Linked DNA regions of Homo sapiens: region 1 is linked to region 2. A link means that fine-mapping ties the variant in region 2 to the expression of a gene that starts in the linked region. Tissue or cell type: monocytes. Region 2 holds a variant in brackets; the other region holds the start of a gene. All regions are shown on one strand. Distances are between the middles of the regions.

What was found. PIP is the estimated chance that this variant, and not a neighbour inherited with it, causes the effect.
Region 1: ME1 starts here. The variant in region 2 is fine-mapped to the expression of ME1 in monocytes (Fairfax 2014, PIP 0.95).

Annotation. Positions count from the first base shown.
Region 1 is chr6:83,428,780-83,433,932 of GRCh38, reverse strand. It overlaps ME1 (malic enzyme 1), which reads left to right and starts at 2,882. Exons shown (of 14, transcript NM_002395.6): 1 at 2,882-3,056. The coding sequence starts at 2,979. RefSeq lists enhancers at 1,467-2,666, 2,609-2,778, 3,399-3,668 and a silencer at 2,989-3,178.
Region 2 is chr6:83,287,499-83,292,651 of GRCh38, reverse strand. All of the region lies in intron 6 of ME1 (malic enzyme 1), which reads left to right. Among named protein-coding and RNA genes, the nearest start is that of RWDD2A, 97 kb to the right of the region's middle. The variant A/G (reference allele first, on the strand shown) is at 2,289.

The DNA of each region.
Region 1 (5,153 bases), 140 kb before region 2:
TCTTTATTTATTTAAAACATTTAATTAAGGGCCCAAATGCATTGGATTAGACTTGTGCTCTCTAATTCGATGGTCACTGGCATGTTACTAAGCATTTGAAATGTGGCCAGTGCAAATGAGATACTCAGTTTAAATTGTATTTGATTTTAATTTAAATATAAAACAGATACTCAATTTAGTCATTGGAAAACTTTAAGGTATATTTGCAACAAGTTAGGTATGAGAGTCTACTATTGCAAATGTAAGTTTTATAAAATTGAAATACAGATCAAATTTCTGATAAAAATTTGGTGTCTAAATTGAGATGTGTTATAAAATGCACACTAGATTTTGAAGACATAGTAGTAGTGTGCTTTTTGTGTGAAGAAATACAGAATCATTTAGTTAATATTATAAATCCTCACCTAGATATGTATTTTTTCTATTAATCTTTTTTATCTCATGAAAGTAAAATATTAGAATTGCTGTATGTACTAAGAGTTATTTCCTGAATTTTCTATACTTGCAATCTCAACTGACATTACATCAGAGTATCTATTACAATCATATTTTATGTTGTAAAAGCTCTTTGTGTGCTAAACTATAACTTGGGAAAGAAAAATCTGATTTTGACTGATGGCATTCTCACCTGTGTATAACAGAAATCTATGTTTTAGTCTCTTAATTTGTGAATGATACCCATTCTTAACATTACCAATTGCTTTCAGAGTGACAGTGCAACCACAGTTTGTTACAAGGCAAATTAAAGCAGTTTTTTTCTCTGCATCTGTTTTCCTACGTTTTTGGAAATAAAACCTAACCTTATGAGATTATTATTTAAAAAAGACTGAAAATTTTGATATTCTAGCTAACATTTATGTAGAAAAATAGGTTCTTTCTAGTATTCTTGGAACTACATATGAATGTACTAAATGGCTTCTTCAGCTAGGCCTTATCCTGTTTCATTCAAGATGACGGCGGTTATTTTAATAATTAAAATAAACATACAGATGAAAGATGTGAACTTTACCTACTACTGGCAGGATATTGTAATCCCCTTGTAATGTTGCCTTTGAGGGAGAGGCCATATACTCTTTGTGGGTTACTCCCTGTACTTATAACACTTTTCCTATCTGTAGATATTAAATCTCAGAAACAGGAACAGGTAGGTAGTATATCTAAATTCATGTAATAAGTACTTTATTATAATAAGGGTCTGTTGTACTAACATTTTTGTTTCTTCTTAAGCAGCTTGAATTGGCTCCCATGCCAGCTGTTAAACTGTTTCCTCTCACATAAAACACCCTAACTGTAATGTGTCTCAGTTAATTCAGGAGAGTGAGTTGTGTAAAGTACACCTTTTTCTTAGATGTTGTAGGATTGAGTATTTATGGAGTATAGAATTAACAATGAAAGGTGTCATTTAACTTCAAGGATTTTTTTCAAAAAGAACTTTGTGATGCCTAGAAAATATTCTCTATAAAAACAACGAATTCTAGATAATTCAGGCGAGGTCAAAGAAGCTTCTAAATGTAAATACGGACAAAATACAATTACTGTAAGAAATCTTTCTGATAAGGCAAAGTTAACATAACTAGAAATGAAAACACTGTGATTGGATGTGTGTCTAGTATATGGAGATATAAAATCAGCAAATAATCTCAAACACTATCCTTTGTAATATCAGTATGCAGAGACAAATGGGACAGAAACTAGCAATCCTATTTAACTGAAAAGGAAACTGGGGCACAGAAGGCTTTAGTGTCTGTTGCTATTAATTTATTTTTATCAGACAGGCACTCCTTTTGGCTATGATCTGACTATTCCTCCAGTCCATGAACCTCCAAGCATAAATATCAATAAAACAATAAAAAAATGGCCCGGCGCGGTGGCTCACACCTATAATCCCAGCACTTTGGAAGGCGGAGGCGGGCGGATCACCTGAGGTTGGGAGGAAGGCCTGAAAGACTGCTTACTCATCATTATTCAGAGAGAGCAGTGGTTCTTGAACATCAGGTTTCTAGAACTCCCAGAGAAATAATATACAAGATAAACAGGACTGTTCATTGGGCCTTTGCACCCTAACACCTTGACTCTTATCTTATTGACATTCAAATACAATTCCGGTGGAAAATCTGTAGAAACTGACAGGTGTGGCGCCTGAGCTCTCCTCTCTGGGCTTCCTCCCAGTTCCCTTGGGCCTCGGCATTCTGGGTCAAGGTTGGTTCCCTCCGGCCTCAGGGCCCCGGGCATGGCCGGCATCCTGGATGGCACGGCGAAGGTTGTGGATCTGTAGAAAGAGGGCTTCCAAGACGCTAACAAGACAGGAGAGACGAGTCTGATTCTCCTCAGCCTGTCGAGGTGTTCTGTCAACAGTTCTGGGGACCCCTCACGAGTCCTTCCGTCCTGTAATCCCCCTAGGTGTCTGAGCGACCGCCGGCTCTGCCTGAACCGCTCAGGTTCGCACCTTCTGGCATCTTCTCGCACTTTCTCCAGCCTTCCCGGGCAGGGGGATCCTGGCCTGACGCTCCCCGCTCCCTGCCCCCGCCCTGGGTCTCTGGGGTCAGCAGAGCCACCCAGTGCACTGCGTTTAGGCATGCCCACATGGAGAGAGGCGACCACAGCGGTGATCATAAGCCCATGGTGGGCAGAGGCCCTATGGAGCCAAGGGCTCCGGCCGCCACCCCCGCTCCGCCACCAGCAGCGCTGCCAGGACTCGCTCTTCCTCCTCCTCCTCACACGCCGGCTCGGATGATCTCCTGCCATGACTCAGCGCTTCTCGCAGGCTGCCCTGCTGGGGACACCGGCTTCGCTCGGGCCCCTCCCGACGCGTCCACCCCCTCTCGCCACCCACGCCCGCCCCCAGCCGCTGGGCCTTTCCCAGTGCGGCCGCCGCCGCCACAGCTGCAGTCAGCACCGTCACCCCAGCAGCATCCGCCGCCTGCACCGCGCGTGCGGCCCGCCCCGGCCTGACCCCGCCGCCGAACCCGGCGCCAGCCATGGAGCCCGAAGCCCCCCGTCGCCGCCACACCCATCAGCGCGGCTACCTGCTGACACGGAACCCTCACCTCAACAAGGTAAACCCGCAGGCCCACCTGGCCGCCCATCGGCCCCTCTCTATCAGGGTCAGGGCCCTCTTGCAGGTCCCCGCACCATGGCCTCGCCCCTCCGCCGCTCCCCTGGGAAGGTTCCCGGTGAGCGGCCGCGGCCTGGGGGGCCTTGGTGTGGGCAGAAGGAAGAAGGACGCCTAATCGGGTCCGTATCCACTAGAGTGATGGCAGGGCAGTGCTGGTGCCTCTGCACCTCGGCATCCCATGTTAGGGATAGAGGTAAAGGTAAAGGTTAGTGATAGAGGAAAAGGTGATACTTTTCGGCAGCTCTTCTCCAAAAACAAGAGCCCAGACAATGAAAGTAGTATCAGACAAAGTGTGTGAATGGAGTGCCAGGTCAGACTCCATGTGCCACTCACTTACTGGTTGCACACACAGTGTGGCAATTATTGGAAGTTGATAAGGCGAGAAGTGGCTCAACTGGTCCTGCCCAGACAGAAACGTGTACTGAGTGCCTTCAGATCACGTTAGCAATCTGGAAATCCAAGTCCTCTCGGTTTCTGGAGTGACACGGTTAAGAGTCTGGGAATGCGTGGTGGGTGGCCTCTGTCTTGGACACTTTGCATGGCTTGGTAGAAGAACTCTGTCCCAGACATGGGACTGTGGGTAAAGCCATTTCTTTTCTTTCTTTCTTTTGTTTTGTTTTGTTTTGTTTTGTTTTTAATTTGGCTTTCTGGAAGTTAAAAAAAAATTTTGTTTAGAGCTGCTCTCTTTTTATTAAAGGGGAATTCAGTGTACACCCTGTTCAGAGACTCCTTTTCGGATCCTGGTAACATTTCATTTTCCTTCACTGGTGATGCAATATAAGCACTCGGGATGTCTCTCAAATAAAAAATACCTCCGAATTTATCATTTTGCTTCCACACTTATTTTACAGCCAGGTTTGTCTCGGGATTGTTCCTTTTGTGTGTGTGTGTGCGTGCGCTTTGGACATTTCCTATTTATTCAGGAGTCTGAAAATGCCATCAGTCAGCACAGAGGTTTGTTTAGTTATTTTGGTTGTCTCTTTGGTGGACTGCATTTCACATTAAGAACAGAAGCTCAGCTTTTTCCTTGTCGTGTTCCTGATGATTTGTTGATCATATTAATGACTTAAAGACATGATTTATTTAACAAGTTATAGTCAGTGTGAGTGATTTTTTTTGTGTGTGTGGTGACAGGCACCTTTTACAAATCTATGACTGTGTGCTATCTGCCGTCATGTAGCATTATTAAATTGTAAATAATTCCAACTTATTTCTTTCTTTAAAATAAATTTAATTGCTAGTTTGATTGTTTTTTCTTTTCTTTTATTATTCTGCAGGTTTGCCACCTATTTTCAGTAGAACAAAAGTAAAATTTGATGTGACAAAACTATTTGTGACTTGTATGTGTCACCTGCCTACTGTAATTTATGACCAAGTTGTGGGTTGACACTTAAGAAGGACCACATGAGTTGTATAACCTGTTTGATTTTCCTCAAGTTGGGGGCAAGAGTGTCTATTAAGAGTATGTAGATGGCATGAGCAATCCCTGAGCAAGAGTAATTATTGCCTTTACTATGCTTACATCAAGAATTTATTATTATTATTATTATTATTTGAGACGGAGTCGCGCTCTGTCGCCCAGGTTGGAGTGCAGTGGCGCGATCTCCGCTCACTGCAAGCTCCACCTCCTGGGTTCACGCCATTCTCCTGCCTCAGCCTCCCGAGTAGCTGAGACTACAAGCGCCCGCCACCATGCCCGGCAAATTTTTTGTACTTTTAGTACAGACTGGGTTTCACCGTGTTAGTCAGGATTGTCTCGATCTCCTGGCTTCGTGATCCACCCGCCTCAGCCTCCCAAAGTGCTGGGATTACAGGCATGAGCCACCGCGCCCAGCCAAGAATTTATGATATAACAATCCTTGTGACTCCTGTTCACAAGGTTACTAGGAATTAAGGATTAATTCCTACTTCAGAATAATAGTATCACAAAGATCTTCTATCAAAGATAAGATGTAACATTAATATGTTAAAAGCACATTTTCAAATTTGTAATACTTGAACTTTTTATCTGCATTATGTCAAATTGGATCCACAATCC
Region 2 (5,153 bases):
AGACAGCAATGGTTCTCCCAGCATGGCGTTTGGGCTCCAAGAACAGAAGCACTGCCTCCTCAAGTGGGTCCCTGACCCCTGTGTAGCCTGACTGGGAGACACCTCCCAGTAGGGGCTGACAGACACCTCATACAGGCGGGTGCCTCTCTGGGATGAAGCTTCCAGAGGAAGTATCAGGCAGCAATATTTGCTGTTCTGCAGCCTCCACTGGTGATACCTAGGCAAACAGGGTATGGAGGGGACCTCCAGCAAACTGCGAAGTAACTGCAGCTGAGGGGCCTGTCTGTTAGAAGGAAAACTAACAAACAGAAAGGAATAGCATCAACATCAACAAGAAGGACATCCACACCAAAACCCTATTCGTAGGTCCCAACATCAATGACCAAAGGTAGATAAAACCACAAAGATGTGTAGAAACCAGAGCAGAAAGGCTGAAAATTCCAAAAAACAGAACACCTCTTCTCCAAAGGAACACAACTTCTCTCCAGTGAGGGAACAAAACTGGATGGAGAATGAATTTGATGAATTGACAGAAGTAGGCTTCAGAAGGTTGATAATAACAAACTTATCTGAGCTAAAGGAGCATGTTCTAACCCATCGCAAGGAAGCTAAAAACCTTGAAAAAATATTACACGAATGGCTAACTAGAATTACCAGTGTAGAGAAGAGCTTAAATGACTTGATGGAGCTGGAAAGCACACTACAAGAACTTCGCGAAGCAAACACAAGCTTCAATAGCCGATTCGATCAAGCAGAAGAAAGGATATCAATGATTGAAGATCAAATTAATGAAATAAAGCGAGAAGACAAGATTAGAGAAAAAAGAGTGAAAAGAAACGAACAAAACCTCCAAGAAATATGGGACTACGTGAAAAGACCAAATCTACATTTGACTGGTGTACCTGAAAGTGACAGGGAGAATGGAACCAAGTTAGAAAACACTCTTCAGGATATTATGCAGGAGAACTTCCCCAACCTAGCAAGGCAGGCCAACATTCAAATTCAGGAAATACAGAGAACACCACAGAGATACTCCTCAAGAAGAGCAACCCGAGACACATAATTATCAGATTCACCAAGGTTGAAATGAAGGAAAAAATGTTAAGGGCAGTGAGAGAGAAAGGTTGGGTTACCCACAAAGGGAAGCCAATCAGACTAACAGTGGATCTCTCTGCAGAAACCCTACAAACCAGAAGAGGCTAGGGGCCAATATTCAACATTCTTAAAGCAAAGAATTCTCAACCTAGAATTTCATATCCAGCCAAACTAAGCTTCATAAGTGAAGGAGAAATAAAATGCTTTACAGACAAGCAAATGCTGAGAGATTTTGTCACCACCAGGCCTGCCTTACAAGAGCTTCTGAAGGAAGCACTAAACATGGATAGGAACAACTGGTACCAGCCACTGCAAAAACAGGCCAAATTGTAAAGACCATCAATGCTAAGAAGAAACTGCATCAATTAACAGGTGAAATAACCAGCTAACATCAAAATGACAGGATCAAATTCACACATAACAATATTAACCTTAAATGTAAATGGGCTAAATGCCCCAATTAAAAGACACAGACTGGCAAATTGGATGAAGAGTCAAGACTCAGTGGTATACTGTATTGAGGAGACTCATCTCACGTGCAGAGACACACATCAGGCTTGAAATAAAGGAATGGAGGAAGATCTATCAAGCAAATGCAAAGCAAAAAAAAAGCAGGGGTTGCAATCCTGGTCTCTGATAAAACAGACTTTAAACCAACAAAGATCGAAAGAGACAAGGCCATTACATAATGGTAAAGGGATCAATTCAACAAGAAGAGCTAACTATCCTAAATATATATGCACCCAATACAGGAGCACCCAGATTCATAAAGCAAGTTCTTGGAGACCTACAAAGAGACTTAGACTCCCACACAATAATAGTGGGAGACTTTAACACCCTACTGTCAATATTAGATCAACAAGACAGAAAATGAGCAAGGATATCCAGGACTTGAACTCAGCTCTGGACCAAGTGGACCTAATAGACATCTACAGAACTCTCCACCCTAAATCAACAGAATATACATTCTTCTCAGCACCACCATACACTTATTCTAAAATTGACCACATAATTGGAAGTAAAACACTCAGCAAATATAAACGAACAGAAATCACAACAAACTGTCTCTCAGACCACAGTGCAATCAAATTAGAACTCAGGGTTAAGAATCACACTCAAAACCACACAACTACATGGAAACTGAACAACCTGCTCCTGAATGACTACTGGGTAAATAATGAAATGAAGGCAGA[A/G]ATAAACACGTTCTTTGAAACCAACTAGAACAAAGACACAATGTACCAGAATCTCTGGGACACATTTAAAGCAGTGTGTAGAGGGAAATTTATAGCACTAAATGCCCACAAGAGAAAGCAGGAGAGATCTAAAATCGACATCCTAACATCACAATTAAAAGAACTAGAGAAGCAAGAGCAAACATATTCAAAAGCTAGCAGAAGACGAGAAATAACTAAGATCAGAGCAGAACTGAAGGAGATAGAGACACAAAAAAAACCTTCAAAAATTAATGAATGCAGGAGCTGGTTTTTTGAAAAGATCAACAAAATAGCCCTCTAGCAAGACTAATAAAGGATAAAAGAGGGAAGAATCAAATAGATGCAATAAAAATGATAAAGGGGATATCACCACCAATCCCACAGAAATACAAACTACCATCAGAGAATACTATAAACACCTGTATGCAAATAAACTAGAAAATCTAGAAGAAGCAGATAAATTCCTGGACACATACAACCTCCCAAGACTAAACCAGGAAGAAGTTGAATCTCTGAATAGACCAATAACAGGTTCTGAAATTGAGGCAATAATTAATAGCCTACCAACCAAAAAAAGTCGAGGACCAGATGGATTCACAGCCGTATTCTACCAGAGGTACAAAGAGGAGCTGGTACCATTCCTTCTGAAACTATTCTGATCAATGAGAAAAAAGGGAATCCTCCCTAACTCATTTATGAGGCTAGCATCATCCTGATACCAAAGCCTGGCAGAGACACAACAAAAAAAGAAAATTTCAGGCCAATATCCCTGATGAACATTGATGTGAAAATCCTCAATACAATACTGGCAAATCAAAAAGCTTATCCACCACGATCAAGTCAGCTTCATCGCTGGGATGCAAGTCTGGTTCAACATATGCAAATCAATAAACAAAATCCATCACATAAACAGAACCAATGACAAAAACCACATGATTATCTCAATAGATGCAGAAAAGGCCTTCAACAATATTCAACAGCCTTTCATGCTAAAAACTCTCAATAAACTAGATATTGATGGAACATATCTCAACATAATAAGAGCTATTTATGACAAACCCATAGCCAATATCATACTGAATGGGCAAAAACTGGAAGCATTCCCTTTGAAAACCAGCACAAGACAAGGATGCCCTCTTTCACCACTTCGATTCAACCTAGTATTGGAAGTTCTGGCCAGGGCCATCAAGCAAGAGAAAGCAATAAGGGGTATTCAAGTAGGAAGAGAGGAATTCAAATTGTCTCTGTTTGCAGATGACATGATTGTATATTTAGAAAACCCCATCATCTCAGCCCCAAATTTCCTTAAGCTGATAAGCAACTTCAGCAAAGTCTCAGGATACAAAATCAATGTGCAAAAATCATGAGCATTCCTATACACCAATAACAGACAAACACAGAGCCATGAGTGAACTCCTATTCACAACTGCTACTCAGAGAATAAATACCTAGGAATACAACTTACAAGGGACGTGAAGGACCTCTTCAAGGAGAACTACAAACCACTGCTCAAGGAAATAATAGAGGACACAAACAAGTGGAAAAACATTCCATGCTCATGGATAGGAAGAATAAATATCATGAAAATGGCCTTACTGCCCAAAGTAATTTATAGATTCAATGCTATCCCCATCAAGCTGCCACTGACTTTCTTCACAGAATTAGAAAAAACTGCTTTAAATTTCATATGGAACCAAAAAAGAGCCTGCATAACCAATACAGTCCTGGGCAAGAAGAACAAAGCTGGAGGCATCACACTACCTGACTTCAAACTTTACTACAAGGCTACAATAACCAAAACAGCATGGTACTGGTACCAAAACAGATATATAGACCAATGGAACAGAACGGAGGCCTCAGAAATAACACCACACATCTACCACCATCTGATCTTTGACAAAACTGACACACACAAGCAATAGGGAAAAGATTCCCTATTTAATAAATAGTGTTGGGAAAACTGGGTAGCCATATGCAGAAAACTGAAACTGGACCCCTTCCTTACGCCTTATACAAAAATCAACTCAAGATGGATCAAAGACTTAAATGTAAGACCTAGGACTGTAAAAATCCTAGAAGAAAACCTAGGCAATACAATTCAGGACATAGGCATGGGCAAATACTTCATGTCTAAAACACCAAAAGCAATGGTAACAAAAGCCAAAATTGACAAATTGGATCTAGTTGAACTGAAGGGCTTCTGCACAGCAAAAGAAACTATTATCAGAGTGAACAGGCAACCTACAGAATGAGAGAAATTTTTTGCAATATGTCTATCTGACAAAGGGCTAATATCCAGAATCTACAAAGAACTTAAACAAATTTACAAGAAAAAAGCAAACAACCCCATCAAAAAATGGGCAAAGGATATGGACAGACACTTCTCAAAAGAAGACATTTATGCAGCCAACAGACATATGAAAAAATGCTCATTATAACTGGTCATTAGAGAAATGCAAATCAAAACCACAATGAGATACCATCTCACTCCAGTTAGAAAGGCAATCATTAGAAAGTCAGGAAACAACAGATGCTGGAGAGGTTGTGGAAAAATAGGAATGCTTTTACACTATTGTTGGGAGTGTAAATTAGTTCAACCATTGTGGAAGACAGTGTGGCGATTCCTTAAGGATCTAGAACTAGAAATACCATTTGACCCAGCTTTCCCATTACTGAGTGTATACCAAAAGGATTATACATCATTCTACGATAAAGACACATGCACACGTATGTTTATTGCTGCACTATTCACAATGGCAAAGACTTGGAACCAACCCAAATGTCCATCAATGATAGACTGGATTAAGAAAATGTGGCACATATATACTCTGGAATACTACGCAG